Homo sapiens: one gene and its partners. The protein of the gene in region 1 interacts with the protein of each later gene in a biochemical or structural test. Each region holds a gene or a part of one and is shown in the gene's direction. Other genes may lie near its edges.

Region 1 (4,568 bases):
TGTGAAATTAACTTCCTTTATAGACGCTTACTCCCTTTTTCAGCTTTTCATTTTTGCTGTCTATTAATGCCTGTAAAGTCCCTAAATTAAACTTGACTTTTTCTATCTGTAACTCCATGTTTTCTACGGGATACTTCAGCAAATGATAGCAGCAAGATATCTTACATTCCCAGGCAGAACCAGCATTTGCATGCTCAGGGTTTCACTTCAGGAGAGTCTCCTGTAAGGTGGAGCTGAAAAAAAAAAAAAAAGAAAAGCCTTGTGGGGTATGGAGAGAGCCTGAGCTCTAATCTAGAGTCTGCTAGACTCTATCAATGACTATTAAATTTAGACAGTTTCCACAGTTTCATGACTATGTGGGTTAAAAGGTAAAAACTTTTTCCTATTTTAGCCAGTAAAATTAATCAAGGAGAGGGGAGAAAGGAGGTATTCAACAAGAAAAAGTTAAGTCTATTTAGACTTAACTAATAAAGTCGAGATAGGAAAATGAGGTTTTATATTATCATTAACAAAAAGGTTATAATAATATGTGCCTTGCTAACCTTGGATATGAAAGGGTTTTATAAACCATACAATTTGTAATATTTTAATATGTTAAACTCCTGTAGGGATTTTTTTTTTTTTCAGTTTGCAGCCAATAACTAGAACTACATTAAAACCAGAGAGGAGATAACCAAAAAGATATGCTGGGGGCAGGGATGGGTTGTACTTTTTAAAATCAATGACATATGTTGACTATTTCATTAGAATTAAATTATGTCATATATGCTTCTAGGATCCTTAATTATTTCATTCTTGCTTGCAGGTAATTTTGAGAGAGTGATTGTGTGATGGGGAAAAGCATGGATTTTAGAGAAAGATTAAGGTCTGAGATCCTGCTTTACTACTTGCCGGCTGGGGAACATTGTTTGGGCAAATGTCTCAACTAAATAGATTAACTTCTCTGACCCTCAGTTTTCTAATATGTCATTGGGTAAAATAGTACCTATTACTTAGGATTATCATGAAGATTAAATACAACAAAGTGGAAAAATGACTGACACAGTGCCTACATCATTACATGCCTGCAAAGAAATTCATTTTCCATCTCCTCTCATCTTCACGTTCCCTGTAAAGGAAGAAAAGGAGAATGTCAAGGGCTTGCAGAGTATAAGACTGGATGGAAGAACTCATATTTGGGGGTTCTAAAAATCTGATCCTTTGGGTATGAATAGACTTAACTTTTTCTTGTTGAATACCTCCTTTCTCCCTTCTCCTTGATTGATTTTACTGGCTAAAATAGGAAAAAGTTTGTATCTTTTAACCCACATAGTCATGAAACTGTAGAAACTGTCCAAATTTAATAGTCATTGATGAAAGTAATTGGAAGTATCTCTTGTAATTTCTAAAGTTTTTCTTGCAAGTAATCACTCTTACCTCCCTTGTTCTGAATAGTTCTGGATATCACTCCAGTCATATAACTCCTTAGGGATTATTGTCTCTGCTTTGTAACTTGACACTTTGTTCATTCTCATGGCATTGCATTATTCATAAACCTTGATCAGTTTAAAAGTAAGCACAATAAAAGATGGTAATACCTTGAAGCATTTTAAAAAGATTATAATTATAAAAGTAATTATGTAACTATTGATGAACAATGTTCATTGAAGAAAAGTTAGAAAATGCAAATATGCCACCAAATCCCAAAACACAGTTAATCCTTTTTAAATATAAAAATTCATTTGCACATATAGGTGTTTATATAATAATAGAACTCATGCTATATATACTGTTTGATGACCTTTTTTCCTTAGCATTACATCTTACTGCATCTGAAAATGCACATCTTTTATGTCTCTATTTTTAATGACTGCATAATATTTTATTTTATGAATACACCATGAATTATTCAGTCCTCTATTGATAGGCATTTAGCATCTCTTCATTTTTTTTTTACTTTAAACTGTGCTATAACAGATAATTGTCTAAATGTTTCTATAGGATAATTACTGCAAAGGCAGTTCTAAGTCAAAGGTAAATGCACTTAAGGCTTCCAATATATCTCTAAATTGACCTTCAGAATGTAAGAAATCTTGTACCAATGAACAACGCTGTCAGTAGTATAAAAGTGTTATTTAAAACAAAGTGTCACTTGAAAACAATTCTTACAAGATTGGGCTAAATTCTAGTAATCTTAAGTTCCTTATTACCTAGTAGTGGCAAGGTTTCTAATTTTTTCTTATATTGCTGTTTTAGTAAAAAGATTTTGTGATAAAGTTTTAAAAAGCATGGCTTCCTAATAGTTATTTCCCACTCTCCCCCTTCTTCTAGGATGGTTAATTTATCTTTTCTCTCTCTCTTTCTTCCCTCCAGGATGGAAGTATGATGTGATGGATATAATTATGGGACACTGTGTGGGCACACGGCCTCCTGCTTGTTGCCTCATCCTCCTGCTTTTCAAGCTTTTGGCCACTGTCTCCCAGGGGCTGCCAGGGACTGGACCCCTGGGCTTCCACTTCACACATTCCATTTATAATGCTACCGTGTATGAGAACTCAGCAGCAAGGACCTACGTCAACAGCCAGAGTAGAATGGGCATCACCTTAATAGATCTATCCTGGGATATCAAATACAGAATAGTGTCCGGAGACGAGGAAGGCTTTTTCAAAGCAGAGGAAGTCATCATTGCAGATTTCTGTTTTCTCAGAATAAGAACTAAAGGTGGCAATTCTGCCATATTAAATAGGGAAATCCAGGATAATTATTTATTGATAGTAAAAGGTTCTGTCAGAGGAGAGGATTTGGAAGCATGGACCAAAGTGAATATACAGGTTTTAGATATGAATGATCTGAGACCTTTGTTTTCACCCACAACATACTCTGTTACCATAGCAGAAAGCACACCTCTAAGGACTAGTGTTGCCCAGGTGACTGCAACAGACGCAGATATTGGTTCCAATGGAGAATTCTACTACTACTTTAAAAATAAAGTTGATCTCTTTTCAGTTCACCCCACGAGTGGTGTCATCTCCTTAAGTGGTCGATTAAATTATGATGAAAAGAATAGGTATGATCTGGAAATTTTGGCTGTGGACCGGGGAATGAAACTGTATGGGAACAATGGAGTGAGCAGTACTGCAAAGCTTTATGTTCACATTGAGCGCATAAATGAACATGCCCCAACAATCCATGTAGTCACTCATGTTCCTTTCTCGTTGGAAAAAGAGCCAACATATGCAGTGGTGACAGTTGATGACTTAGATGATGGAGCGAATGGAGAGATCGAATCTGTTTCCATTGTGGCTGGGGATCCTTTAGATCAGTTCTTCCTGGCTAAGGAAGGAAAGTGGTTGAATGAGTACAAGATTAAGGAGAGGAAGCAGATTGACTGGGAGAGCTTTCCCTATGGCTACAATCTCACTCTTCAAGCAAAAGACAAGGGATCTCCTCAAAAATGTTCAGCATTAAAGGCAGTCTACATTGGCAACCCCACAAGAGACACTGTCCCCATTAGATTTGAAAAAGAAGTGTACGATGTGAGCATAAGTGAATTTTCCCCTCCTGGTGTCGTGGTTGCTATAGTAAAATTAAGTCCTGAACCGATAGATGTGGAATACAAATTATCTCCTGGTGAGGATGCAGTGTACTTTAAAATTAATCCTCGGTCGGGTCTGATTGTTACAGCACGGCCACTGAATACTGTTAAGAAGGAGGTTTATAAACTGGAGGTGACAAACAAGGAAGGAGATTTAAAAGCACAGGTCACCATCAGCATAGAAGATGCAAATGACCACACCCCAGAATTTCAGCAACCACTGTATGATGCTTATGTGAATGAAAGTGTCCCAGTGGGAACCAGCGTTCTAACAGTTTCAGCTTCTGATAAGGATAAAGGAGAAAATGGGTACATCACCTATAGTATCGCTAGCCTGAATTTGTTACCATTTGTCATTAATCAGTTTACAGGTGTTATTAGCACAACTGAAGAACTGGATTTTGAATCCTCCCCAGAAATTTACAGATTCATTGTTAGAGCCTCTGACTGGGGTTCACCATACCGCCATGAAAGTGAGGTCAATGTGACTATTCGAATAGGAAATGTCAACGACAACAGCCCTCTCTTTGAAAAAGTGGCTTGCCAGGGAGTTATTTCATATGACTTTCCAGTTGGTGGTCACATCACAGCAGTCTCAGCGATCGATATCGATGAACTTGAACTTGTAAAGTACAAAATCATTTCTGGAAATGAACTTGGCTTCTTTTATTTAAACCCAGATTCTGGTGTTTTACAGCTTAAAAAATCACTGACAAATTCTGGCATTAAAAATGGCAATTTTGCCCTCAGAATTACAGCAACTGATGGAGAGAATCTTGCAGACCCCATGTCTATTAACATTTCAGTCCTACATGGGAAAGTGTCTTCAAAGAGCTTCAGTTGCAGAGAAACTCGTGTGGCTCAAAAGCTGGCAGAGAAACTACTCATTAAGGCAAAAGCAAATGGGAAACTGAATCTGGAAGATGGATTTCTTGACTTTTATTCAATTAATAGACAGGGACCATATTTTGACAAGTCTTTTCCTTCTGATGTG
Region 2 (4,568 bases), on another chromosome or scaffold:
AGGCTGAGGGCGGGATAATCACTTGAGTCCAGGAGTTCAAGGTTATGGAGAGCTATGATCATGCCACTGCACTCCAGCCTGGATGACAGAGCAAGACCCTGTCTTTAAAAAAAAAAAAGATAATTCTGTAGATAAGGGCAGATCTTGAGAGAGAGAAATTAATGATTTATAGTGGAGTGATGAAACTTTTGCTGAGTCACGTATTTTGTTACAAAGCCAAAAATCGGCTATTGAGCTCACTCCTATAATTTTATGGTCTTCTATCATTTGTGCACATTCCATGTTTCTTTTGCCTCTCTTCACAATATTTTGTACATTCTCATCCAAATTTTCGTTTGTTGCGGCTCAGAGATTACCCTTCCCATGATTGTTTTTCTGCTGCTTGACACAATCAACTCTTATTTCCTTTTTTATAGATAACACCTTTGCTGCAGATTAACTGTGGATTTGGGCCTATAGGCCAGCTCTATTCTCAGTTTTTTGGACTGTGATTTCGGGAAGAAGGAAAAGGGGGCCATGATGGTGCCCACTTGTGACTCTTTGTCTCACTGCAGATAGAAATGTACATCTTTTCTGCTGTTCTCTGGAGGGTGGGATAGTAAGTAGCTTTCACAATACCCATTCAGCAGGTTCCTTAGCAAAGGTGCCCTTTTATTCTGGGCATTTAAAGACAACAAATGGTAATGGAGAAATGGGCAAAGGAAGAACTGACAGGCTTTGTTGCTGAAAACAATCACTTGAGGTATACACACATGTATGTGCGTGAGGCAGGTGTGCTTGAGTGACATGACTGTGCCCAGATGACATGAGGAGTGAGTTAAAGAAAAGACATTTTTTGCGTTTCTGTAGAAAGATCTTAATTCGAGAAACAGTTGATAAGGTGCAGAATTTGGATGGAATAGCAAGGTGATAGAAAGTTAGTTTCTATTTTACATCAGAATATGGAGATTCCTATACTATCTGACTTTATGAACATTCTCAGTAATATAGCATTTCAAATGATTTTTGAAGAGCACAATTTTTAAAAAACATTTTTCTGCCAGAGAACTAAGTTCTAAAAGCTGGCATTAATTTCTGTCTATGTCAAAAGCCAAATGGATTAATAGTGGAATATCACATGAAACATACAATGTTTCACATCAGTGTTCTTAATGATAATAATGACTTAAGACTTGGTAAGAAAGCTGAAAAAGATTATTCCCATTCTGCAGTTGTTATAATAAATAAACTATCCCCTGGAGAATATGCTCTTCTTTAAAACAGGTTCAGAGTTCAGCAATCAGAAAATATTGCAACTTGATTAAAATTTTTCTTCATATATGCAGCCAGCTCCTTATCCTGATCTTTCAAGTAGGAAAAATATGAGAATTGTAAGCCTTGGTAAAATGTTATGGAAATGTAAAACTCAGTAAACACTGAAAAGGCAACTGAAGATTCAAATCAGAAAGTAACAATTAAGAACCTTCCAGAGTTGAAGCAAGTAAGCATAGTGAGTGATGAGACTTAGGTGTGTCCATAGAAAGAATATTCTTGTTTTCCATTTTTTCAAATGTAGCTTTTCCATGCTTATAAGTACTGATTGACAGAATAATTTTTTATTTCAGCAACCTCCAAATTTAAAGTCAAGGGGAACTATGATGTGTATTGATGTTGTTTTGTATTTTAAACATCAAAATTTACCGTACTTTATATTCTTGTAACAGATTTTATATTGAGGTAGTGCAGTTCATTCACACATAGTCATTATTTCGTACTCTGTAAATGTTTCAAGGGGCTGGGCACGTAAGCCCAATACTTTGGGAAGCCAAAGTGCGTGGATTGCTTGAGCCCAGGAGTCTGAAACCAGCCTGGCCAACATGGTGAAACCCCATCTCTAAAGAAATACAAAAATTTGCCCGGTTTGTTGACATGTTCCTGTAGTCCCAGCTACTCTGGAGGCTGCAGTGGGAGGATCACCTGAGCCTGGGGAGGTCAAAGGTGTAGTGAGTAGTGATTGTACCACCGCATTCCACCTTGGGTGACAGAGTGAGACTGTCTCAAAAAAACAAACAACAAAAACACTTGTTTTGAGCTACATGGACCAAAATAAAAAGTATATTGAATATTCATGTTTATAGAGCAAAGCATGTATATAAAGATACTTTTGTATCAAAGTATTTGATATATTTGATCTTTTTTTGCCCACAATACATTGGTTTTATTTGAGCTAAAATTGTTCTCTGGGAATATTTTATTTTATTTTATTTTTTGTTATGGGACAGAGTCTTGCTCTGTCGCCCAGGCTGGAGTGCAGTGGCATGGTCTCCACTCACTGCAAGGTCCACCTCCTAGGTTCACGCCATTCTCCTGCCTCAGCCTCCCAAGTAGCTGGGACTACAGGTGCCCGCCACCACGCCTGGCTAATTTTTTGTATTTTTAGTAGAGATGGGGTTTCACCATGTTAGCTAGGATGGTCTCGATCTCCTGACCTCGTGATCCACCTGCTTCGACCTCGTGATCCACCTGCGTCGGCCTCCCAAAGTGCTGGGATTATGGGCGTGAGCCACCACGCCCAGCCTGGGAATATTTTAAATCTAGTTTTTATGATGAGCAGGCTTAAGGCTTTATTTGGACTTTGATCATAAATGTATTTACTTTGCATAGTTAACATGACTATTACTCTGTATTTTTTCAGATTCTTATTTTGAGTTCTTCATTATATAAGTTTTAATTTTTTTTTTAACCCATTAGCAAGTTTATTGTAATTGAAGTGTTACTTGTCTTTAAAAACTATCAGGCCATCCTTTGAGATAGCACAAAGATGTCCTACCATAAAATGTTAACTTTACATATTTGTAAATTAGAAACATCACATTACTATGGGTCTAAAGATTTATAAATAGCATATTGCTTATTTTATGATGATCTAAAAAATTCACTTACAGATAGTGTACTCTCAAAATGTATTTTATCTAATTGAGACATCTGAGATTGCATGTTTATGCCCCAAATTCCTTGCATTCCAAATTTCCTTGAATTCCAAATTCCTTGGGTTGATTTTTATTCTTATTAGGACATTTTAAAAATTTGGTAGGATGCAGTCACCTACTTTTTTTGTGTTATTGAACATTCTGTAAAAGCACAATCTGTTTAAAGTATATATTCCTACATATCTGTGTACCACTGTATTTCTTATTCTTCAATTATAATTTGATAAGTCAAGCTTGAATGACTAAACAGATGCTGGAGAAATATTTCAAACGTGGGAAAAGAGGAGGAGAAATAGGTTGTAGGACTAGATGTGCCATTCAGTTTTTACTTGAAGAGCCTGTGCCACGTGTCTGTTATGTGGTTGGAGCAAGAGTTTGTGCTTGAACAAGCATCCTAGCCTTACTGATTTGGACATGACCAGTATAGAGATGGTGGAAATCTTGGTCATGGGCGGGATTGCTGAGGAGGAGGAGCTCAGAAGGCTGAGTGCTTCCTCTTCTGGAGTGTAGGCTTTCTTAATGATAGGCTGTCATCTTAATGCATTTTATTCAGTTCTACATTAAGCTTTCATTTCTTCCTCTGTTTTAAGGGAGGTGAACAATAATTTGTATATCCTAAATGTTTTTTATTTTAAAAAGTCTTCCTTCTATGCTTGGTGACTATGAAGTTAAATCTTAACTAATTAAACAAGATTACCTGAATAATATTTACCAGCTATATTATGTATGCTACAATATTGTGGAAAAGTTTTCTGTGATGTTGTATATCTCTACTTTGTCTCACAGATGTTGATGTTAGAATTCTTTAGAGGCTCTCTGAACCCATATACCTTTTTCTGCTGATTTTGTATGATCAGGATTTGTTATTTTTTGTGAATAAACACCATTAGTGAACATTAAATATATTGATAACTTCAGAATTTCCTCATAAAAAGGGAGATAAATGAATTATATTTATTTATTTTTACTCCCATTGTTACTGTTTTTCTTGTCGTTTAGAATATATGATTACACCAAAAAAATCCCGAACTCTAGAAATCTACTAGTCTTTAGTCCTTCCACTACATTTTCCCTCTATCTTTCTCAAATCTGATTTAAGTTTGGTTCAATATTGAATAATTGCTACATAAAAATATTAACAGCTGGTTCCAAGAATCTTCTGGAGTGGGTGCAGATGTAGTGTTTTCATGGATCTTGCTGTGGAACCTTCATGGAAATATTTTGCCTCTTATGATTAAGGAACTGCTCATTAGCAGTCTTTAAAAATAACTTTGAGAAAGAAACATTGGACTATAATGTGCTGTGCAATTTTGTTCCCTATTAGAAAGCAGAAGATGAGGATATTGTTCTTACACCTGATGGCACCAGGGAATTTCTGACATTTGAAGTCCCACTTAATGATTCAGGATCTGCAGGCCTTGGTGTCAGTGTCAAAGGTAACCGGTCAAAAGAGAACCACGCAGATTTGGGAATCTTTGTCAAGTCCATTATTAATGGAGGAGCAGCATCTAAAGTGAGTGTCAACTTTATCATGCGTATGCCTATTAACAAAAATTTTAATTTCAACCCTGTTCCTATTTTGGAAACATATACAGTTAA
Region 3 (4,568 bases), on another chromosome or scaffold:
GTTGAATATATGCTTTTCTCTGGTTTCTTTCTGTTCTTTACTCCCTCTTTTATTTATTTGCTTCAACGCCTTTCTGTATATCCCTAACCGTTTCTTTCTTTTCTTTCTTTTTTTTTGAAACAGTCTCCCTCTGTCACCCAGGCTGGAGTACAGTGGCTCAATCTCAGCTCACTGCAACCTCTGCCTCCTGGGTTCAAGTGATTCTCCTGCCTCAGCTTCCTGAGTACCTGGGATTACAGGTGCCTGCCACCACGCCTGGCTAATTTTTGTACTTTTAGTAGAGACTGGGTTTTACCATGTTGGCCAGGCTGGTCTCGAACTCCTGACCTCAAGTGATCCGCCCGCTTCGGCCTCCCAAAGTGCTGGGATTACAGGTGTGAGCCACTGCGCTTGGCCTCTAACTGTTTCTATTAACTATCAAGCAGTCTTTTTTTTTTTTTTTTCCTCCTTCAACAAATGCTGCTTCAGGGAAAATTATTTCTCTACTTGTCTTAGGATATCAGAAATTACTGCGATGGACTCAAAGTTGCTAAGGAATACTTTGAAGTCCTTCCTACACATAGTACTGGTAGTCTGCACATCACATATATTGACATGGTGTCTGAGAGCTTTTTAGAAGTTCAGAGTCTCAGCCTTTACCCAGATAGATGTGCTGACTCAGAATCTGCATTAACATAACATCCCTAGGTGATTTGCATGCACATTACAGTGTGAGAAGTGTCACCCTGGGTGATCTCCTTTCTGTTTGTGGCTTATTCACTTTGACTGTTAAGCTTTGAGCTGGAATGGTGCTGTGTAAATTCCTAATGTCAGTTTATGTTCATCAGTGACTTCACTGGCTGTTTACTAATAGTAATTTCTACAAAGTAATTGTTTTAGATCTTAGAAATGATCCTAGTCATCTTAACACTCAAGAGCTTCATGGTAGTTGGACTTTGAGGAAGAAGTAGAAGGCAATCATAGAAGCTGTGTGAGTGGGTGCTTCTCAGGTGGTAAGGGCCAAGGTGATAGAGACAGCGTCATATATGTGTTAGACACACACTTTGGTCAATTCTGATCGTGATTTGTTCTTTACCCTTTCTGTCCTCCCCATCCCTTTTTGGGCACGTGCAGGCTGAACTTCCTGTACTGATGCTGGGAAGATCATCTGACCTTCGGGCTGGAGAGTTTGTGGTGGCTTTGGGCAGCCCATTTTCTCTGCAGAACACAGCTACTGCAGGAATTGTCAGCACCAAACAGCGAGGGGGCAAAGAACTGGGGATGAAGGATTCAGATATGGACTACGTCCAGATTGATGCCACAATTAATGTAAGTCACTTAGGACAGAGGTGCCCAACCCATGGGCTGTGGACCAGTACAGGTCCATGGCCTGTTAGGAACTGGGCCGCACAGCAGGCTGTGAGCCATGGGCGAGTGAGAATGACTGCCCGAGTTCCACCTCCTGTCAGATCAGTGGCGGCATTAAATTCTCATAGGAGTGCAAACCCTATTGTGAACTGCGCATGCAAGGGATCTGGATTGCATGTTCCTTATAGAATCTAACTCATGCCCGATGATCTGAGGTGGAGCAGTTTCATCCCAAACCACCCCTCCGTCTGTGGAAAAATTGTCTTCCACAAAGCCGGTCCCTGTGCCAAAAAGTTTGGGGATTGCTGACTTAGGAGGCCTTTCCTCAGATCACACAATATTGGCAGTTCAGTGAGAAGAATATGTCAGAGTGAACTTTGGGGATGTCCAGGTTTGGTTGAATCACTGTGGGAGGAATGGAATGCCACTTTGTTAGAGTCTGTCTCGTTCGCTGTGATCGCTGGCATCCATGCTATTAGGTGGTCTGTTGTAGAGGTCACCCCTCCTGTAAGAAGGTGGTGGTCCCTTGGCCAGGCACGGTGGCTCATGCCTGTAATCCCAGCACTTTGGGAGGCCGAAGGGGGTGGATCATGAGGTCAGGCATTCGAGACCAGTCTGGCCAACATGATGAAACCCTGTCTCTACTAAAAATACAAAAATTAGCTGGGCATGGTGGCGGGTGCCTGTAATCCCAGCTACTCAGCAGGCTGAGGCAGGAGAATCACTTGAACCGGGAGGCAGAGGTTGCAGTGAGTCGAGATTGCGCCATTGCATTCCAGCCTGGGCAACAGAGTAAGACTCCGTCTCAAAAAAAAAAAAAAAAAATGAAGGTGGTGGTCCCACTGCTATAGTTCTTTACCTACACTGACTTTGGTATTGGTGATGATAGGGGCACAATTTTGCCGGCCTGGGGGGAATAGGAGCTTGGTGGGCTGCTTTTGGTAAACTGTTTTGGGAGCTATGTGTAAAGGACAAGGGGGAATGTATTCATTAGCTTCACTGATGTCTTTTTCAAATTCTGCTTTTAGTATGGGAATTCTGGTGGTCCTCTGGTGAACTTGGTAAGTGATCACTTTCCTTGTTGCTTCATGTTTCTTCTTAACTTTCAAAGACTTTATTAATTCCAGGCCAGGGGTGGTGGCTCATGCCTGTAATCCCAGCACATTTGGGATGACTGCTTGGGGCCAGGAGTTTGAGACTAGCCTGGGCAAGACAGCAAGACACCATATCTACAAAAACAAAAACAAAAAAGGACTTTACATATTCCATGATGCAGACTTGGGTGCCACTCTTGTGTAGAGAGCTGTGGAATGGTGCTTTTCTGTTCTTGGACCTTAAGTCAATAGTTAGAAAAAATTCAAGATTGTTATCCTGGTGTGTGATCTCATCCCACTGAGAACACTAGGGTTCTAGCTCCGGCTTCCTTTGAAATTTCTCTCTTCCCCGTGCTTTCTGTTTTCATTGGCTAGTTACCCAAAGCCCTGGATTTTATTTATTTATTTATTTATTTAATAGAGACGATGTCTCACTATGTTGCCCAGGCTGGTCTCAAACTCCTGAGTTCAAGTGATCCTCCTGCCTTGGCCTCCCAAAGTGTTAGGATTACAGGCATGAGCCACCATGCTGTGCCAAAAGCCCTGGATATTAAACCCAGGTTTATGCCAAATGACCAGCTTTGCTATGAAATGTAGGTCCTTGAAGACTCCTTGATGCTGCATATGAAGAACTATCTCTCATTTAAAAATGCTAATTACATAATGTCATCTGTCCAGGTTTTTAGTCTTGACCTCTTGACCTGCTTATAGATGAGAGAAAAGCCACAACCAGCACTCCTGACTTCAAGTGAGCTGCCTGCCTTGGCCTCTCAAATACATTGCCGTGTCATGTATTCTTAAATTGTATTCCGTGTCTCTAGTGGAAATGTCAGGGTTTCTAGTTGCCCAAATACATGTGAAAACCTAAGAGAGTGCAATGCTGTTTGACACATAGCATGTGATCATCCTTTCTGAGTCCCTTTGCACTGATTGCTTTTGGTTCCTGTTTAAATATTACATTTGCTTTTAGAATGAATTTTATGCAAAATGATTGTTTTTTTTTTTTTACTCATAGCATTGCATGTCATTTTTCTTTGTTTTGTTCCTGCCTTCTCCATTAGACAATGAGTTTACTAGAGCAGGGATGAAATGCAGAATTTCAGGCCATACCCCCGACCTACTGAATTACAATCTGTAGTTTAACACAATCAGAAATCTCTTTTCTGGCTGGGTACGGTGGCTCACTCCTGTAATCCCAGCACTTTGGGAGTCTGAGGTGGGTGGATCACCTGAGGTCAGGAGTTCAAAACCAGCCTGGCCAACATGGTGAAACCCCATCTCTACCTAACATACAAAAAAAAAAAAAAATTAACTGGGCATGGTGGCATGCGCCTGTAATCCCAGCTACTTGGGAGGCTGAGGCAGGAGAATCGCTTGAACCCGGGAGGCAGAGGTTGCAATGAGCCAAGGTTGCACCAATGCACTCCAGCCTGGGCAACACAGTGAGACTCCGTCTCAAAAAGAAAAGAAAAAAAAAAAGAAATCTCTTTTTTATCCTTTCCCATTACCTAAAAGGCTAAAGGAAGATGAGGTACATAAAGAGGAAAATATTTTCTACCTCATACCTTTAGCTTAGCAGAGCTTTGTTCCCTAAGGTCAATTTTGCTAATTCTCAGTGCAGTGTTACTGACAATCCCACAGCTTTTTACCTTTTCCATGTTTATTTTTACTTTTAAATAATAAAAAGGCAAATGCTCCTTGTCCTTCTACCTTTGTCAAAATACAAACTGTGGCTCACTTTTAAAGTCAATGTAACTTACTAAAGGAAAAAAATGAGCTTAAGTTTTTTTTTTTTTTTTTTTTTTTTTTTTTTTTTTGAGACGGAGTCTCGCTAGGTCGCCCAGGCCGGAGTGCAGTGGCGCGATCTCGGCTCACTGCAAGCTCCGCCTCCCGGGTTCACGCCATTCTCCTGCCTCAGCCTCCCGAGTAGCTGGGACTACAGGCACCCGCCACCAGGCCCGGCTAATTTTTTATATTTTTAGTAGAGATGGGGTTTCACCATGTTAGCCAGGATGGTCTCGATCTCCTGACCTCGTGATCCGCCCGCCTCGGCCTCCCAAAGTGCTGGGATTACAGGCGTGAGCCACTCTGCCCAGCCATGAGCTCAAGATTTTAAAAAGTCCTCAG
Region 4 (4,568 bases), on another chromosome or scaffold:
CATGTCCAGTTTCAACTTACTAACACGATGTCACTGAACACAATGAAGTGTTGCACAGAATTGGCTTTTGTGAGCCGGTGTGAGCCAGTATAGCACACCGCTGGACCTGAGGCCGAGGTGTGGGTGAGGATTTGGGACTCAGAACCAGGAGTCCTCCTTCCTTGCAACTCAATAGGAAGAACACTAGGTTCTTTCAGGGAAGGTAAATACATAAAAGAACATGAGTTCGGGCCGTATAAACTGCTATTCGCCCATAAGTTGTTATTTTCTTTTCACTCTCTGTTTACATTAATTTATCAAATATTAATTTGGTTTGTGTTTTGTAAAAACATCCTCAGTGCCTTGGAGAAAGAATATCATATGAAGCAGACAGGAATTCTTTAGTGAAGGAGTCTACCATTTAGTAGATAAGAGATATGTCCATAATGAAGGGAGATAGAGGTTAAGTACCTTCATACAGGGGCAGATCAAGCACTGTGATAATTCAACGTTAGAGTAAGCTTTTCTCACTAAAAAGGTACCAGAAGCCCTCATAGTAGGGGTGGCACTTGAGTTCAGGCTTTGTAACATGAATAGATTTGGGAAAGTAGACAGAGCTGGGATAAGGAAGATCATTCCAGGAAGGTGGGAATCATGTGAACACAGTCAGGAGACACTGGCACAGTTTAATTGGCACATGATGTGTAGTACAAGAATTCGTTGGAAAGGTAGGTTGGAGAGAGGTGACAAGGGGACTTCTATGCAAGACTGATGAGTTTGAACTTGGCTTATCAGACAATGGGGAGTTGTTTTTTGAGCAGTATAAGGGAGAAGAACAAAAACCAGCCTATAATGTCTTGGGGGCTTTGCACATCTCAATTACTCCTAACAATTATGCAAGAAGAACTGCTGAAATTGAGGGCTTGGAGAAGATACAGTAATTATGTAAGGTCAAATAGTTGTTTAGTTCCAAAGCCCATGCTCATTCTGTTGCACCAGGAAGTGACTTGGTTAGGAATGTGCACCAAGATGGATCTGAAGGCAGATCTGTATCAGACAGAAGGACTGGGGAAGGGAAAGCAGTAGGTAAGGTGCTGTAATAGTTTAGGTAGAATTCTAGGCAGGAACTAATACAAACTGCATTCAGGGTAGAGGAAGTGGGATGTGTAAGGTATTATGGTAGCATCAGAGGACTTAGCAATCGTCTAGATATGGGGACTGGATGCTGGGGAAGAATCAGTTGCCAAGTGTTGGTGACTGGGATGATGTTGCTCCACTAACAGGTAACCAAGAGGAGGGGCTTTGGGATGGAGAATGGGCAGAGCTGATTTTTGGCTTGAATACATTACAGTTGAGAGATCTATGAGATATTTTGTTGGAGATACCCAGCAGCTAGCTGGAAAAGTGAAACAGGAACTTGTTAAAAAAAAAAAAAAAGGCAGCATCTGGTGAAGATACCAGAAGGCCAAAGCACATGGAGGCATGTATATACAAATATATTCAAAACCGAACACACCCAATTGCTACTAAAATGCCAGCCTGGGTTTCTTAAGGTCCAAAGTTTTGGGTTTTGTTCTTTATTCTTCCCCATCTTTTATGACAGCTTTTACATAAGACGCGTGGCTACAAGTATGCCCACTGACTTTCTGGGAACTTGCAGCCTTTTAATATGCTATTTTGCCAAAATCAAATGTCAGACGCTTTTAGTAACAGGATTATTTTCGTTAAGACCCCTTCATTGTTAATTGCTGGGTTAGTTTCTGGGGTGAGTTCTGAGCAGGAAACGAGCCTAGATAGTGTGCTTATAAGCTTCCTGGGATGCTGGTGGAAGGGGTGGTAGTTGTACTCAGCATGCCTTTTTTATCTGTTTCATCAGGGCTTTGGGCTCCAGCAGAAAATCTGTTTTATTTTTTTAGGGGACTTACTGATAATTTTATTTTTTGGGGTTGGGGGAGGGTAGGTCAAATCATCAAGGACATAGATTCTGGAAGTCCAGCAGAGGAGGCTGGCTTGAAGAACAATGATCTGGTAGTTGCTGTCAACGGCGAGTCTGTGGAAACCCTGGATCATGACAGTGTGGTAGAAATGATTAGAAAGGGTGGAGATCAGACTTCACTGTTGGTGGTAGACAAAGAGACGGACAACATGTACAGACTGGTAAGTAATACAAGGCCATATATTCATGCATTAAGGCTGGGCCCATTCACTCATGACCTCAACTTTTGCACTGAGTTAGGACTTTGTTCCTCAAACTGGAAGAGGCATAACAATCATCATTAAGGCTAAACTGAAGCTCAACTCAAATTGGTAGTGATAAGAGAATGCCAAATGATTGATAAATGAGTTTTAAGTCCTTGGTCTTAAGATTTTGAAAGAATTTGTGAATATAACTGCAGGCTTACTCTTGGTGATCTGAGAAAATCTATGGAGAATATAAGCCTGGAAATAAAATTGTTCCCAAAATAGGAAACAATTAGATTTTAAGCTTTAGGTCAGTTAAGTGCTATCAACTGCACATAAAAGCCTAGAAAGGATTATTAAACAACTTGTAAGCCCTTAGCAAATAAAAAAGAAACACAGATAGACCAAGACCAACCTGAATCAAACTAACTTTATTTTCTCTTAACAGCTCTTTATCATAACACCCACTACTGCATGTTTTAAGGTTTTTTTTTTTTTTTTTTTTTTTTTTTTTACTTTTAACACAAGAACTGAGGTTGTCTAGTTTAACAGATAACCTGGGGGGCCTTCTAAGTACCATCTGTCTTGCTAAGTGTTGATTGTAAAGATGAACAAGATAAATGTCCTCTGTGATATACAATGATAGTAGAATCTAAAATAAGCGGTACAGAGGGGGGAATATGATGGGTGGTGATATCTTAGGCCCTCCTCATAGATTAGGAAACCGAAGCTTAGAGAGACTAAGCACTTTGCTAAAGTCACGCAGCTTAGTAAAGACTGAAGGTGGTATCTGAACCCAAATTCTTGGACCCGTAATTCATTATACCATACTCCCCAGCACATTTTTTCAAGATAATCTTGTAAGCAGGATTAAACAATTAATTAGATTAATGGCTTTTTTTTTTTAGCTACTTGAACAATCATACCTAGAAAATACTTGATATCAACCTGAATATCAACTTGAATAGAAGTCTCTAATGGCATGCTACTTGTTCCTAACCGTTTATGTGCTTAAAGTTGAAAGGAGATATGGAAAATATATTAACATACTTAAAGTGGCACTAGATAATTCATTTGCTGGATGGTGTAATTAATACTCAAAATATTTAGTTAGGATAGAAAGAATGAAAACTAAAGAAATAAGAATAAATTTCAGATGTACTATACTAACCTAAAAGTAAATTGTATGAATACCACATGGTGAGACCTGATTTGAGGACTACAGAAAAAGACCAGAAACTTCATAGTCCAAGTGGTTGCCCCATCCAAATATGGTAATTTAAAAATTAACTGACAGACACTTGGCTTCTAGAGATGACCATCTTACTGTACTTACTTGGTCAGACCATACTTGGAATACCTGGTAATATAGTTACCACCTCTCTCTGTGCTTCAGTTTCCTTAGTTGTAAGAGAGGGGTAGTAGCTACAGCGAAGGGTGGCTATGAGGGTTGAATTGGAATATTCAGAGCATGTAGAATAATGCCTCACACATCTAAATGTTCTATTTGTTCAATCAATATTGTGTCCGGTTTCAAGAACTTCACTTTAAGAAGGCAATGACAAGGGTAACCAGGGAAGAGGTTTTGGAAGCCACCATGTGAGTATTTAGCTTGAGTAAGGCTTTGGAGAAGAGAGCATCTTCAAGAATTTGAAAGGCTATTACATGTAAGAAGGAGCACACTTTTTTTTTTTTTTTTTGAGACGTTGTCTTGCTCTGTCACCAGGCTGGAGTGCAGTGGTGCCATCTCAGCTCACTGCAATCTCCACCTCCCGGGTTCAAGCGATTCCCCTGCCTCAGCCTCCTGAGTAGCTGGAATTACAGGTGCGCACCACCATGCCCAGCTAATTTTTTGTATTTTAGTAGTTTTACCATGTTGGCCAGGATGGTCTCGATCTCCTGACCTTGTGATCCGCCCGCCTCGGCCTCCCAAAGTGCTGGGATTACAGGTATAAGCCAACACGCCCGGGCCACACATTTTTTTTAAGGTGTCCTATGGGGCACAACAGGACCAGAGAAGCCATAGGGAGCTAGCTTTTGGCTTAAGAACCAACTGAAGCTGCCAGAAATGATGAGTCATTTTGCAGTTGGTGGAAAGTCAAGCAGAAATCAGAGGCGGCTGCTGCAGCTGTTTGTTGTAAAGGGGATTCTGACCCCTCCTGATCTTATCATAGAATGATTTAATTGTAATTTTTCTGTTTTGGTTAATAGAGAACTTTGATCGAAAAAGAAGCCTGCCCTCATCATCTCCTTCCCCGCTCTCCAAAGTAAGCCCTGTAGGTTGGGGTGGAGGGTAGATCTTTGAGATACATCAGTGAGTAAAACACAACCCTCTAGCAGTCCCTGGCACATACTAGACACCCAATTATCTGAATGAAGCATGAATAAAATCTCATTTTTTTTTTTTG
Region 5 (4,568 bases), on another chromosome or scaffold:
CAATTTTTTTTTTCTTTTAAGTGATAGTCTCAATACATTGCCTGGACTGGTCTTGAACTCCTAGGCTCAAGTGATCCTCCCACCTCAGCCTCCCAAAGTGTTGGGATTACAGGCGTGAGTCACCATGCCTGGCCCACAGATGGTTTTAATGGCATCTGGAATGATGAATCATTTCAAGACAGTTTTCAATTTTCTTTTCACAGATCTGTTAGGGAATCACTGTCTATGTCAGCTGTAGCTTTATGAAATGTGTTTCTTAAATAACAAGACTTGAAGGTTGAAACTTTTCCTTGATCCATGGGCCACAGAATGGATGTTGTATTAGCAGGCCTGAAAAAAATCACTAATCTCCTTGTGTACCTCCATCTGAGCTCTTGAGTGACAAGATGCATTGTCAGTGAGTAGTAGTATTTTGAAATGAATCTTTTTTTCTGAGCAGTGGGTCTCATCAGTGGACTTAAAATATTCATTAACCCATACTGTAAACAAACGTGCTGTCATTTAGGCTTTGTTGTTTATTTACTGAGCACAGGCAGAATAGATTTAACATAATTCTTAAGGGCCTTAGGGTTTTCAGAATGGTAAATGATCATTGGCTTCAACTTAAAGTCACCAGCTGCATTATCCTCTAACAGGAGTCAGCCTGTCCTTTGAAGCTTTGAAGCCAGGCATTGATTTCTCCTCTCTAGTTATGGAAGTCTTAGGTGGCATCTTCTTCTGATATAAGGCTGTTTTGTCTACATTAAAAATCTGATTTTTAGTGTAGCCACCTTCATTAATTATCTTAGCTAGATCTTCAGGATAACTTACTTTTTATGTTAGTGGAGGTGGCTTTTTTTCGTAAACTTCATGAACCAACTTCCACCAGCTTCAAACTTTTCTTCTGCAGCCATCTCATCTCTCAACCTTTTTAGAATTGAAAAGTTAGGGCCTTGCTGTGGATTAGGTTTTGGCTTAAGGGACTGTTGTGGCTGGTTTGATGGTTTATCTAGACCACTCAAACTTTCTCCATATCAGCAATAAGACTTTTTCACTTTTTTTTTTTAAATCATTTTTTTGTTCACTAAAGTAGCACTTTTAATTTTCTCCATGTGCCTTTTCTTTGCATTCACAACATGGCTAACTGTGTGGTGCAAGAGGCCTGGCTTTGGGCCGTTGTTAGCCTTCCTAAGTTTAATCATTTCTAGCTTTTGATTTAAAGTGAGAGATAGGTGACTCTTTTCACTTGAACACTTAGGGGCCATTGTAGGGTTATTAATTGGCCTAATTTCCGTATTGTTATGTCTCAGGGAATAGGGAGGCCCCAAGAGAGGGAGATAGAGAAGGTGGAACAGCCAGTGGAACAGTTGGAACACATACATCAGTTACGTTTGCCATCTTACATGGGCACAGTTTGTGGTGCCCCAAAACAATTACAGTAGTAACATGAAAGATTGCTGATCACAGGCCACCATAGCAAATATAATGAAAAAGTTTGAAATGTTGTGAGAATTACCAAAATGTGACACGGAGACATGAAGTGAGCATGTGCTGTTGAAAAAAATGGTGCTGTTGGACTTGCTTGATGCAGGGTTGTCATGAACCTTCAATTTGTATTTAAAAAAAAAGAAAACAACCCCACAATACCAGCCAAGCACAATAAAACAGAGTATGCCTGTACTTCTTTGCGTCATTATGCCAGAATTCCTTAAAGAAGCCACAGTCATAATTAGACCTTGAACTTGGCTGTTTCTCAGCTCAATCCACATTTAATACCATTCTTTATAACGTTCCTTTTTTTACTTCAGAATGAACTCCTTATATTTCCCTTAATGTTTATTTCCCTCTCAGTGCTTAATGCCATGATTTGCACATATTAAATGATGAATAAATATTTTACAAGCCAAAATTTGGAAATACATTTTGTAAAGTCATCATATGTTAAAAAGGTAGCACTTCGTATTCATTGGAACTGCTAACTTTTTGTTTCTTGGACAGTCTTACTCAGCAGCTTGGTTTCAGTTAGTTGTTATAGGCTAATGCCTCCTAGGATTATGTTTTCCAACTTATCCCCTAAATTTTATGTGCTTCAGCTTCATATATCAACCATCTTGTCCTCCAGGTTCTTCAACCACTTGTCCTAAATTGAGCCATCATTATTCCTCTTCCTTCATAATCTGTTGGCAGCTGGCCGAGTTGCTGTCTCTAGGAATTTGTATTATTTCTCTTCATTCCTCATAGATGCAACTTGCCACTAAACTTTGTCCCCTGAATCTTTTTATTTGCCCTTTTCTTACAAGTTTTACTACTCTAATTCAGTCTGTTTTATTGTTTCTACCCCCAAATTATTGCTTGAGTCATTGAGTCTTGCTGCTAGAGTGATCTTCCTCTCAGATCTGATTATGTTCTACTCTTGCTCAGAATTTTATTTCCTATATTTCCTAGGTATAGATTAACAATATGTTGTTCAAATCATTTTTGTGAATTAAAAGAGAAGCTGTTAATATTTATTTCAGAGTAACAGGTTAAAGAGGGACTGTCCCGCTTAAACTGAGATATGGTTACCTCACCCAGATGATAACATTAATTTGTACATTCATTTAAGAAATAATATATCTGATATATTAAAAACCAAGGTTGTAGAGAGGAGTTAGACATGGTCCCTATTCATCAATGACTTGGGAGACATAAGAAAACATAAATGTAATAAATGTTTTAGTTATTAGTGACAAAGGTATGAGTAGGGCTTTGGGATTGCAAGATGGGGAAGGGAACAAGCTTCATGGGGGAGCATTGAATTCCCAGTGTTAAATGTCATGAATTGATTTCTGGATGATCAAGAGAGGTCATTCCAAGCAGAGAGGCAGGAGCAAAAGTACTGATGATGGCAAGCCATGTATACTTGTAGAATAAGAAGCCAATCTGTAAGTCTAGAGCAGGCATTCCCGTTGGAAGTGATATCGCTCCCAAAGATGCAAAAATTGCCTTTTATGGGAGTGGGAAAAAAAATCACAGCTATTGGTATGGTTTGTGGCCCTCTAAAACTCAGCCCTAAACTGACAGTGTCTTATTCTTTAGTATTTAATTAGAGATGGGGCAGTGCTTACGAAAAATTGTCTGAAAGGTTCTTTGGGAGGGGATGAAAATGAAAAAAAGGTTGCAGAACACTGGGGCTAATGTCTAGGATGTTTGGGGATGATGGTACATGATGTGAGATGTTTAATGATGAAGCTGGACGTACTAGCAGGGTTTGGATAATTTCAGAAATTTGGACTCCATCTTATAAATAAAGGAGAAAGAACCGTTGCAGGGTTTAAAGCCTGGAAATAAGATCAGTTTTATAAAGACTACTATGTGAGCATTTTGGAGATGTAATTGAGTGGGGAGGAGCAGACTAGAGACAGGGAGGCTTATAGGTATACAGGTAGACTGGACATGTATTTTATCCAAACTGGGATATTTTCCATGTGAAAGGTAAGACTACTAGTGATTATACTAAGATAATATGGAAACCAAGAAGTATGGTTTTTTTTTTTTTTTTGAGACGGAGTCTCTGTCACCCAGGCTGGAGCGCAGTGGCGCTATCTCGGCTGACTGCAAGCTCCACCTCCCGGGTTCACACAATTCTCTTGTCTCAGCCTCCCGAGTAGCTGGGACTACTGCCGCTCGCCACCATGCCTGGCTAATTTTTTTGTATTTTTAGTAGAGACGGGGTTTCACCATGTTAGCCAGGATGGTCTCGATCTCCCGACCTCGTGATCCACCCACCTCGGCCTCCCAAAATGCTGGGATTACAGGTGTGAGCCACCGTGCCCAGCCACCAAGAAGTATGTTTTGTTGTTAGAAACAAATACAGTAGTTCAGGTGTGAGATAAGGTCCTGGACCCAGTGGTGGCAGCAGTTAAGTGGGATAGTGAGGTATTAAGGAGGTAGAATTGGCCCAACCTGGTCACTGGTTGGAAAGATAATTTCTCCTCCTCCCCCAGACTTTTTTGAAAAACTTTGAAATGAACTATAAAACATAAAGTCCATATGCCCTAAATATACATTGGCAGATGATTAATTTGTTTTGTTTGTTTGTTTGTTTTTTGAGACGGAGTTTCTCTCTTGTCTCCCAGGCTGGAGTGCAGTGGCACAATCTCAGCTCACCGCAACCTCTGCCTCCCGGGTTCAAGGGATTCTCCTGCCTCAGCATCCCAAGTAGCTGGGATTACAGATGCCTGCTACCACACCTGGCTGATTTTTGTATTTTTAGTAGAGACAGAGTTACACCATGTTGGCCAGGCTGGTCTCGAACTGCTGACCTCATGATCTGCCCGCCTCGGCCTCCCAAAGTGCTGGGATTACAGGTGTGAGCCACTGCACCCATGCCCGGCTACTTTTTGTATTTTTAGTAGAGACGGGGTTTCTCCTTGTTGGTCAGGCTGGTCTCGAACTCCCGACCTCAAGTGATCTGCCCGCCTCGACCTCCCAAAGTGCTGGGATTACAGGCGTGAGCAACTGCGCCCAGCCATTGCCAGATTAATTTTTACAAACATATTTTACTGTGTGTATCATGATACAGAATACAGATAAAGAATATTACCAGC
Region 6 (4,568 bases), 8.9 Mb from region 1:
ATTAAGTTAAATACATAGTTGAGCTCTGGGGAAATAGCCAGAGATGTACCTTGAAAGCAGAATATAGTCCCATATATAAAAAATGGACAAGGATTCTTACCAGGATAAAAAAAGTAAGATCGGGAGGTCACTGACAGTACCTTCAGCCCCATGAATTTAGGTATTAAATTATAATATAAAGAGTTTTTCCCATGGCTGGCACATGGAAAAATATGTACTAATGATAAAATAATGATTCTTAATATTATCATCCCCAATAGCATGTATTAAATTTCTCCTTGTATAGGATACTATGTCGGGCATTGCACAAAGTGAATTAAGCAAGTACAAATTTCATGATGTAAAATTGATTTATAATCTGTCAAGAGCCTCATAAATATAAGTAATGCTAACATTAATGAGAAGAAAAATAGTCCTTACTTCCTGGGAACAGCCATCTTAAAGGCCTGTTTCAGAAATAGAAAAATAAATCTTCATATTGTAAACACTCAGTGGGATAAATGGCTTCCCAGGGGAATGAGGCCTGAGGGAACGACAGCAGTGGCACATTTGGTCCGGTGCAATATTAGGAGACAGTCCCATCTGGCATTCCATAGGAGAAGGTCTACTGCCTTCCACAACTATGAGATGACTTATTTTAGTTATGCCTTAGGGCACTGTCACAGCCACTTATCACCAAGGAAAGTTAAATGTACTAAAGGCTGGACTTCACAATAAGGACAGTGAATCTGACATAATTTGCTGCAGCCATATTCATGGGTCTCAAGTGCAGTGATGGTGACATTCAGACCAATGCAATCTACCTACTAAAGGTTGGATGTTTACTTTACAGTTCACTCTTTTCCAAGGCTTTTACTCCAGGAGCAAAGCTGCCATGAATTGCCCATTCCCCAGAGAGTAGTGAATGCTAGGTCAGCCGGAACAAAAGCATGACAGCTGTCACATTTACACATTGATACATCATCACACACATTATTTCTCAAGTGCATCATCCACATCAAATCACAGAGCTTATTAGCACATACATAGCTGACTCTTCAGAGGAGCATAAAATCAAAGATGTGTATGAAAGGGATGTTCTTTTTATATTGTGCCACCATCTGACTTCTGTTCCCTTTCCATGTGGCAATCTCCCTTCACCCTGCCACTTCCAATCTGCTTTTACCTTCCTGCTCCCATGATGCTCTGTGTTTACTTCTGTCTTCAACTATCTTATAATTATGTTTATCTAGCTCCCCATTTGTTCATTCATTCATTCATTTACTCATCTATTCATTCAACAAATAAATGTTGAATCAGTCTCCATGCCACATGCTGACAAACAAGCCATGGTCTTCGCCCTCAAAGAATTACTGATCAGTCAAGGAGACAAAATAAATTCACAGGTCAGAGAATAAAAACCTAAACTAAGTCATTGCTGTAATCAGTAAAAAGGGAATTCAGAGAAGACAGAATTCTTGGAAGGCAGGTCGAAGATGATCCAGAACTATGTGATTTCTTTCTTTGAGACAGGGTCTTGCTCTGTCCAGCCCAAGCTGGAGTGTAGTGGTGCCATCATGGCTCACTGCAGTCATGACCTCGTGGGCTCAAGCCATGTTCCCACCTCAGCCTCCCAAGTAGCTGGGACTAAAGGTATGTGCCACCATACCCAGCTAATGTTTGTATTTTTTTTGTGGAGACAGGGTTTCACCCTGTTGCCCAGGCTGGTCTTGAACTCCTGAGCACAAGTGATCCACCTGCCTCAGCCTCCCAAGGTGTTGGGATTACAGACGTGAACCACTGTGCCTGGCCCACATGATTTCTTGACATCTGGAGCAAATATTTATCTTTCTCTGAAGAGTGTCCCTTGGTTTAGCCCAGCATCTTCTCCACCCACGAGTAACATCCATTCACAGCATGTACAGCTGAGACTGTTTGGAAGAAAAATTATACATAACACCCCTCAGGACAAGATGAGTTTAGCAACAAGAGTTCAGGAAATTCTCACTACTTTGTATTTCAGCCATTAATGTCTAATGTCAATATATTGTTTTTTTTTTTTCCAAATAGCCTCTTTTGAAAGATATCAAGTCTTGGTATAATAGGAAGTCTAACTGAAAATTGGTTTAAAAAACCAAAACCTTGAGTTCTTACCCCAGATTACTCTTCGTTAAATACACAGCCTTAAGCACATCCCTTCTTGCCTCTGTTACTTGCTCTCGAAAGGAATTGACTAAGGCCAGATGTTCCAGACCCAAATCTCTGGCTTCCTAAGCAGCATGCAAGACGGTAATGATTTCAGAAATTCTACATGCACCTGTGATGCATCCTGATCAGCCAACCAAATTGCATTTGGCAGGACATTTTTTTTTTAACACCTGGAAGACCCGGAAAGATAAAGCTGCCAGTAGTTAAGAATCAATAGATTAGGTTTTAGAGAGAATTCAAGAATTTTTCATTTCTCTCCCACCTTGATTTATCCTTGAGCCTTTTAAAAAAAATTTATATATAATAGTTGTACAAATTTTTGGAGTATATGTCATATTTTAATACCTGTATACAATGTGTAATGATCAAATCAGGGTAACTGGAATATCCATCACCAGAAATGTTTTGGGAACATTACAGTTCTTCTCTTCTAGCTATTTTGAAATATTCCTATAACTGCATTTTATACCCCTTAACCAGCTTCTCTTCATCTCCCCTCCTGCCTTCCCTTCCCAGTCTCTGATAACTACCATTCTACTCTCACATTTCAGAAAGTCTGAGATACACTAGAACAAACTCCAAGAAAGGGTGGTCAGGAAAGTTCAGATTTAGAAATCACATCCAATGAGGGGATAGATGAAGCAATAGGACAGTTTATTCTGAAGAAGTAGAAGCCTCAAGACACACTTAAGCACTTTACTTAAATATCCTAGGGCCTACCATGGAGGATATTAGGTCCCTGCAGAACAGGGACCAGTGACTACAAATCATAAGGAGACATATTTGGCTTCAATCCAATGTGGGACCAAGAGACTGCCCTTTGAGAGAATGAGCTTTCTGGCCGTGAGTCCTTGTTGCTGAAATTATTCCAGCACAGAGGAGTCCTGAATGAAGACTAAAAACCTGTTGCTAAGATTACACTATGTTTTCTGTAGGATTTATTTTTGCCATACATTTTAATTTTTTAGGATTTGGAATATTCCCTTTATGTTCTAATACAAACCCTCATTTTCCCAGGGAGATGAATAAGCGTCTAACAGAGGAACAAGCCAAGAAAACCTATGATCGAGCAATTAAGCTAGAACAAGAATTTGGAGAATATTTTACAGGTAAGTTCACTTTTACCCTGGTAGTGTGAGAAAGGGGATAAATTGTCTGACATTTGGCACAGAGAGGGTTCTGGGCCTGGTGTACTTGTGCCCTAAAACCTTCCTGTTGAGAATCCCTAATATCTGTTTCATATACAAGGAGTATCCCTCTGCTTCACCCATTTTGATGTAAAACCCTGGGTTCTCCTGAGAGTTCAGCTGCAGCCAGCTCCCAGGTTCCCACCAGCCCTACCCAAAACCATGGGCAGGAGATACCCCTGAGCTATCTCCTACCATGAAAAGGATTTGAGGCATTGCTACCTCATTAAACTATCTCCCTGATATCATCAGAAAACTTGAAAAACAAAATTTTAGGGCTCAAAATGGTCAGTGTCCAAAGCAGTTACTCTTGAGAAGAAGCTTGGAGGCGTCCGTCCCCAGCTCCATGAGCTTTCATCAGTGTCCCTATCAGCAGCACCTGAACAAGATGCTTAAAACTTCCTCATGTTTCAGTTCACTGTGTCAAGTCTCAACCAAAACTGCTTTTTTTTTCTTTTTAAATGTTTCCTTGGAAACATGAAGGGGAATAGAGGTTTTCTTCTGGAGAGCCTGAGTTCTGAGTTCTGTATTCCTATATACTTTCATAGAACACTGAGTAATCAGACTTTGTGAAATTTGCCTTACACCTGGTTCCCGGAGGTTTAAAAACAAGAACTTTCGAGCTGGGCTTATGCCTCTAATCCCAGCACTTTGGGAGGCTGAGGTGGGTGGATCACCTGAGGTCAGGAGTTCGAGACCAGCCTGGCCAACATAGTGAAACCCCCGTCTCTACTAAAAATACAAAAAATTAGCTGGGTGTGGTGGCAGGCACCTGTAATCCCAGCTACTAGGGAGGCTGAGACAGGAGAATCACTTGAACCCAGGAGGTGGAGGTCGCAGTGAGCCGAGATCGTGCTACTGCACTCCAGCCTGGGCAACAAGGGTGAAATTCTGTCTCAAAAAAAAAAAAAAAAAAAAAAAAAACCCAAGAACTTTCTTCCTGGATTACCATATGTGAAGTTAGATGTTTTATTTTTTACCTTATTCAGAATATAGAAAGTGTCAGTGCCTTAGCAGTTTGTAAATATCTTGAATCAGGTAATATTAAGTAATCTTTCTGTCAGTAACCAAGATACGAGCTGTGTTTCATCCTAAAAGAACATCCAGGTAGGAGAAACAAAAGTGTACATTTTGACAGTGGTTTATATTTTGTATACAATACAATAATATATTCTGAGGATTGTTTTTAAATAT
Region 7 (4,568 bases), on another chromosome or scaffold:
AGAAGTAAAACTACCTTTATCTGCAAATGACATGATCTTATATATAGGCTATCATAAGATGTCTCTAACAAACTAACAGAACTAATAAATGATTTCACAAGGTTGCAGAATACAAGGTCAATATACAAAAATAAATTATATATCTATAGACCAGCAATGAATATCCCACAAATGAAATTAAGAAAAAAACTCCCATTTATAATGTCATCAAATTAATGAAATACTTAGGAATATATTTAACAAAAGAAGTGCAAGACTTGTACACTGAGAACTATGAAACATTGCTGAAAGAAATTAAAGAAGATTTAAAGAAAGACATCCCCCTGTTCATAGATCAGAAGATTTAATATTGTTAGGTAGCAGTACTCTCCAAATTGATCTACATATTCAGCAGATTCACTACCAAAATGCCAACTGCCTTTTTTGCAGAAATTGACATCCTAATCCTAAAATTAGGTAAAAGGCACCTAATAGCCAAAACAATCTTGAAAAAGAACAAGGTTGGGAGACCCATACTCCCAATTTCAAGGCCTACTACAAATCTACAAATCTTCGGTAATCAAGACAATGTAGTACTGGCATAAGGATACACATATAGATCAATGGAATAGAATCAATAGTGCAAAAACAAATGTTTACTTTTATGGTCAGTTGATTGTCAACAAGGGTAGCAAGATCATTCAATGGGGAAAGAGTAGTCTTTTCAAACAAACTGTGCTTGGACAACTGGACATCCACACATAAAAGAATGCAACTGGACCCCTACCTCACACCATACACAAAAATTAACTCAAAATGGATCATCCTCAATGTAAGAACTAAGGTATAATATTCAAAGGCAAAAAACAGGAGTAAGTCTTCATCATCTTGAGTTAGACAATGGTGTTTCGGATACATGCCAAGAGCACAAGTGAAAAAAAGAAAAAATAAATAAATTGGACTACCTCAAAATTTGAAACTTTTGTGCTACAAACAATGCTTTTAAGAAAGTGAAAAGACAACTGACAGAGTGGGAGAAAATATTTGCAAGTCATATATCTGATAAGTGGCTTGCATCCAGAATACATAACAAAATCCTACAACCCAATAATAAAAAGACAAACAACACAATTTTAAAATGGGCAAAGGATTTGAATAGACATTTCTCAATGCACACAAATGGCCAATATGCACATGAAAAGATGCTCAACATCGTTAGTCATTAGGGAAATGCAAATCAAAACCACAATGAGATGCTACTTCACACTCAGTAGGAGAGCTGTAATAAAAAAGACAGACAATAACAAGTTGTTAGCAAGAATATGGAGGAATTAAAACCCTCATGGCTTGTTGGTGGCAATGTAAAATGATGCAGCTGCTTTGGAAAACAATTTGGCAATTCCTCAAAATGTTAAATATAGAGTTGCCATATGGCCTAACAATCCACTCTTACGTATCTACCCAAGGGAAATAAAAACATACAGTCACACAAAAACTTTTACATGAATGTTCATAGCAGCATTGTTCATAATAGACAAAAGGTAGAAATAACTCAAATGTCCATTAGTGGATGAACAGACAAGCAAAATGGGGCATGTCCATGCAATGAAAAAATCACTGAGCAATTTAAAATAAGTGAAGTCCTGATACATGCTACAACAGGAACAAACCTTGAAAAGTTGCTGAGTGAAAGAAGCCAGACATGAAAGACCATAAATTGTAGGATTTCACTTGTATAAAATGTACGGAAAAGACAAATCTATACAGACAGAAGGTGAACGAGTGGTTACACAGGGCTGGAGGAGCAGGGATTAGAGGGAAATTGAGAGTGGCTAATAAAGGGTGAGGAGCTTCTTTTTGAAATGACGGAAATGATTTTAAATTGATTGTGGTGGTGGTTGCACAGCTCTGTGAATATACTAAAATCATTGAATTGAACATATTAAAAAGGTAACTTGTATGCTATGTGAATTACATCACAATAAAGCTATTTTTAAAAACGAATGACTTAGATCTATATGTATCCATCTAGATAAATCTCAAAAAAAAATGTAGAGGGAGAAAAACATGCTGAAAAAGGAAACGTACAGTATGACACCATTTATGTGAAATTTTAAAACAAAAGCCAATAGTATATATTGTTTAGGGAACTATACATTTTTAGTAAGACATAAAAACTTGGATGGAAAGGGTAGACTCAACCGCAGGATTTTCCCTCTCTGCCCTATAAATAATCTTTTTTAAAATTGATGGCTTAAACTTCCATTGTTTATGTTTAGCATATAAGGAAATATATATTTTTATATTCATAACCCCTTTCTTAGACAAAAGGTAAAATGCTATATATACTTTAGTGTACAGGACTTTTTTTTAACTTAATATATTCTAGAGGTCACTCCAGAGGAGTTGATAGAGCTGTTCCAGTGAGACTGCTTTATTAAGCTTGTTGGGGTTTATGTCTAAAAGGAGGAGGGCCAGAGATGGATGACTACATGGAGACGCTGAAGGATGAAGAGGACGCCTTGTGGGAGAATGTGGAGTGTAACCGGCACATGCTCAGCCGCTATATCAACCCTGCCAAGCTCACGCCCTACCTGCGTCAGTGTAAGGTCATTGATGAGCAGGATGAAGATGAAGTGCTTAATGCCCCTATGCTGCCATCCAAGATCAACCGAGCAGGTAACCTTAGGACCTCTTTGCGGGAGAGGGAGGGCTACCGCACACGGCAACTTCCAGACATACCCTTTGGTAGCTGTACCAAAATGAAGTTGCTCTAGGTCAGGGATTTTTAAACTGGGGTCCGCAGTCCATCACCTACTCATTTGTGTATAGAACTCAAGCTGTCTGTGTATGGAACTCAAAGGATCCATAAACTGGGAGGGGGGAAGAAATGCCATCTTTATTTTACCAACCTCAACTGCAATTCAGCATTGCCCTCAATTGCAAATGTCAGGAAGCCACAAATTACAGGAGTGATTAGTAATTCTTGTGACTTAGGCAACAATGAAAATTACAGATCTCTTCCTATCACTACAGTTACTGCAAATCTCTCAAAATGCCACTTACACTCATCTCTCTTTCAAAATTACAGTACTTATTAGACCTGCCGAGAGGTCTTGTTATTTAATGCATTAATAAAGAAGTATGTTACTGAAACACAAATTTATTTAATATTTGATAACTGGATTTTATTATAATTGGTTTCTTTTGTAATCTGATGTACTTTATCTGTTTAAAAATATTCCGAGAAGGGTTCCACAAGCTTTTCTAGCCTGACTTCTGGAGGGGGGGTTTATCATATTCAGTAAAGGTAATAAATATGGTTTGTGAAGCTTGTTTTAATTTTACATTATGTACATGTGTATACACATGTACTTGTAGAGTTATCTTTGTCTATGGTCACTAGACCACAATGTTAAATGTTTTTCTTTCTATGGATCAGTTTAGAAGGTTTGATAATCACTGTCCCCCAGCGTGGCTGGTGGTAAGTGGCTCATCAGCTGCGACTCTCTGGCATCCATGGCAGACATCAGTAATCAGCATGCTTTCCCACTGAGCTTGGATGTAACTTTGGAATGTTTCTCGAAACAGTACTGCAGGCGGCTTCACCAAACAATCGGGGTTGACATACCATCAAATTTATTTCTTCTGTCCGTCCTAGGGAAAAGGTCGAGTTTTAAGACCTACCTTTCTTCTTCTATATCTCAGAAGAATATCTGAAAATAAAATGTTTAAGGAAGGGCCCAGAAATGTAAGCAATAAGTGGAATCAATAGTATAGAAACTGGGACCTGCTGGGGAAATTACATTTAAGGTGTTTCCAGGTTGTGTAATAATCCCAAAGAAAAACCTAGAACTATCCCTACTTCCTATGATTTTTCCTAGCCTCTCACCCAAAGATTTGTCTTCCTGCTCTCAATCCCAGAGAACCATATATTATTCCATAATTTTTATCGTGCTTCCAACCTCCTTCAGTCATAGAAGACCTGGTGCCTACGTGGTTCATTTTGGCCCTGGTCAGTTGGGAAACTCTTCAAAACTGGGGCGGCAATTCCATTTATCCTGGTTCTACCAGTTTATTAGAAACAGAAAACTAACGCTCACCAAATCCCTGCGGAGGGCCTGGCACCTTGATTTACGTCATCTGGGCTCCAAGATACAACTCAGAAGTGATAGAATGTGGGGAGACTGTCTTCTTAGAGTTGATTGAAGGACACAAGTCCAGGATGAGACCAGCCACAGAGACTTGCGTTCCATCAGATATGTATTCTCACAGAGTGATCTGGTCTTTCCCCTAGGCCGGCTGTTGGACATTCTACATACCAAGGGGCAAAGGGGCTATGTGGTCTTCTTGGAGAGCCTAGAATTTTATTACCCAGAACTGTACAAACTGGTGACTGGGAAAGAGCCCACTCGGAGATTCTCCACCATTGTGGGTAAGTGCTTTTGCCATTGGGAACATCTGGACTCTAAGAGGAGGGGCGTGTGTGTGTGTGTGTCTGTGTGTGTGTGTGTGTGTGTGTGTGTCCTCAGTAGTGGCATGGTTCTTAAGCTGTGAATCTATGACATATAGAACTGGGGTCTGTCAAC

The links.
Region 2: the proteins of FAT3 (region 1) and PARD3 interact in a test that uses a peptide from one of them, tested with the Homo sapiens proteins (one large-scale study listed by IntAct).
Region 3: the proteins of FAT3 (region 1) and HTRA4 interact in a test that uses a peptide from one of them, tested with the Homo sapiens proteins (one large-scale study listed by IntAct).
Region 4: the proteins of FAT3 (region 1) and PDZK1 interact in a test that uses a peptide from one of them, tested with the Homo sapiens proteins (one large-scale study listed by IntAct).
Region 5: the proteins of FAT3 (region 1) and RAPGEF6 interact in a test that uses a peptide from one of them, tested with the Homo sapiens proteins (one large-scale study listed by IntAct).
Region 6: the proteins of FAT3 (region 1) and DLG2 interact in a test that uses a peptide from one of them, tested with the Homo sapiens proteins (one large-scale study listed by IntAct).
Region 7: the proteins of FAT3 (region 1) and CARD11 interact in a test that uses a peptide from one of them, tested with the Homo sapiens proteins (one large-scale study listed by IntAct).

Annotation. Positions count from the first base shown.
Region 1 is NC_000011.10:92,349,744-92,354,311, forward strand, and holds part of FAT3 (protocadherin Fat 3 isoform 1 precursor), read left to right. Parts: intron 1-2,352; 5' UTR 2,353-2,369; coding exon 2,370-4,568.
Region 2 is NC_000010.11:34,359,985-34,364,552, reverse strand, and holds part of PARD3 (partitioning defective 3 homolog), read left to right. Parts: intron 1-4,293; coding exon 4,294-4,482; intron 4,483-4,568. UniProt on the Homo sapiens protein: Adapter protein involved in asymmetrical cell division and cell polarization processes. Seems to play a central role in the formation of epithelial tight junctions. Targets the phosphatase PTEN to cell junctions.
Region 3 is NC_000008.11:38,976,840-38,981,407, forward strand, and holds part of HTRA4 (serine protease HTRA4 precursor), read left to right. Parts: intron 1-1,113; coding exon 1,114-1,308; intron 1,309-2,375; coding exon 2,376-2,408; intron 2,409-3,119; coding exon of another isoform or gene 3,120-3,152; exon of another isoform or gene 3,153-3,646; intron 3,647-4,568. UniProt on the Homo sapiens protein: Serine protease.
Region 4 is NC_000001.11:145,676,017-145,680,584, reverse strand, and holds part of PDZK1 (Na(+)/H(+) exchange regulatory cofactor NHE-RF3), read left to right. Parts: intron 1-1,939; coding exon 1,940-2,136; intron 2,137-4,371; coding exon of another isoform or gene 4,372-4,427; intron 4,428-4,568. UniProt on the Homo sapiens protein: A scaffold protein that connects plasma membrane proteins and regulatory components, regulating their surface expression in epithelial cells apical domains.
Region 5 is NC_000005.10:131,624,764-131,629,331, reverse strand, and holds part of RAPGEF6 (rap guanine nucleotide exchange factor 6), read left to right. Parts: intron 1-4,568. UniProt on the Homo sapiens protein: Guanine nucleotide exchange factor (GEF) for Rap1A, Rap2A and M-Ras GTPases. Does not interact with cAMP.
Region 6 is NC_000011.10:83,460,730-83,465,297, reverse strand, and holds part of DLG2 (disks large homolog 2), read left to right. Parts: intron 1-3,204; coding exon 3,205-3,296; intron 3,297-4,568. UniProt on the Homo sapiens protein: Required for perception of chronic pain through NMDA receptor signaling. Regulates surface expression of NMDA receptors in dorsal horn neurons of the spinal cord.
Region 7 is NC_000007.14:2,945,665-2,950,232, reverse strand, and holds part of CARD11 (caspase recruitment domain-containing protein 11), read left to right. Parts: intron 1-2,445; coding exon 2,446-2,658; intron 2,659-3,145; exon of another isoform or gene 3,146-3,636; intron 3,637-4,276; coding exon 4,277-4,414; intron 4,415-4,568. UniProt on the Homo sapiens protein: Adapter protein that plays a key role in adaptive immune response by transducing the activation of NF-kappa-B downstream of T-cell receptor (TCR) and B-cell receptor (BCR) engagement.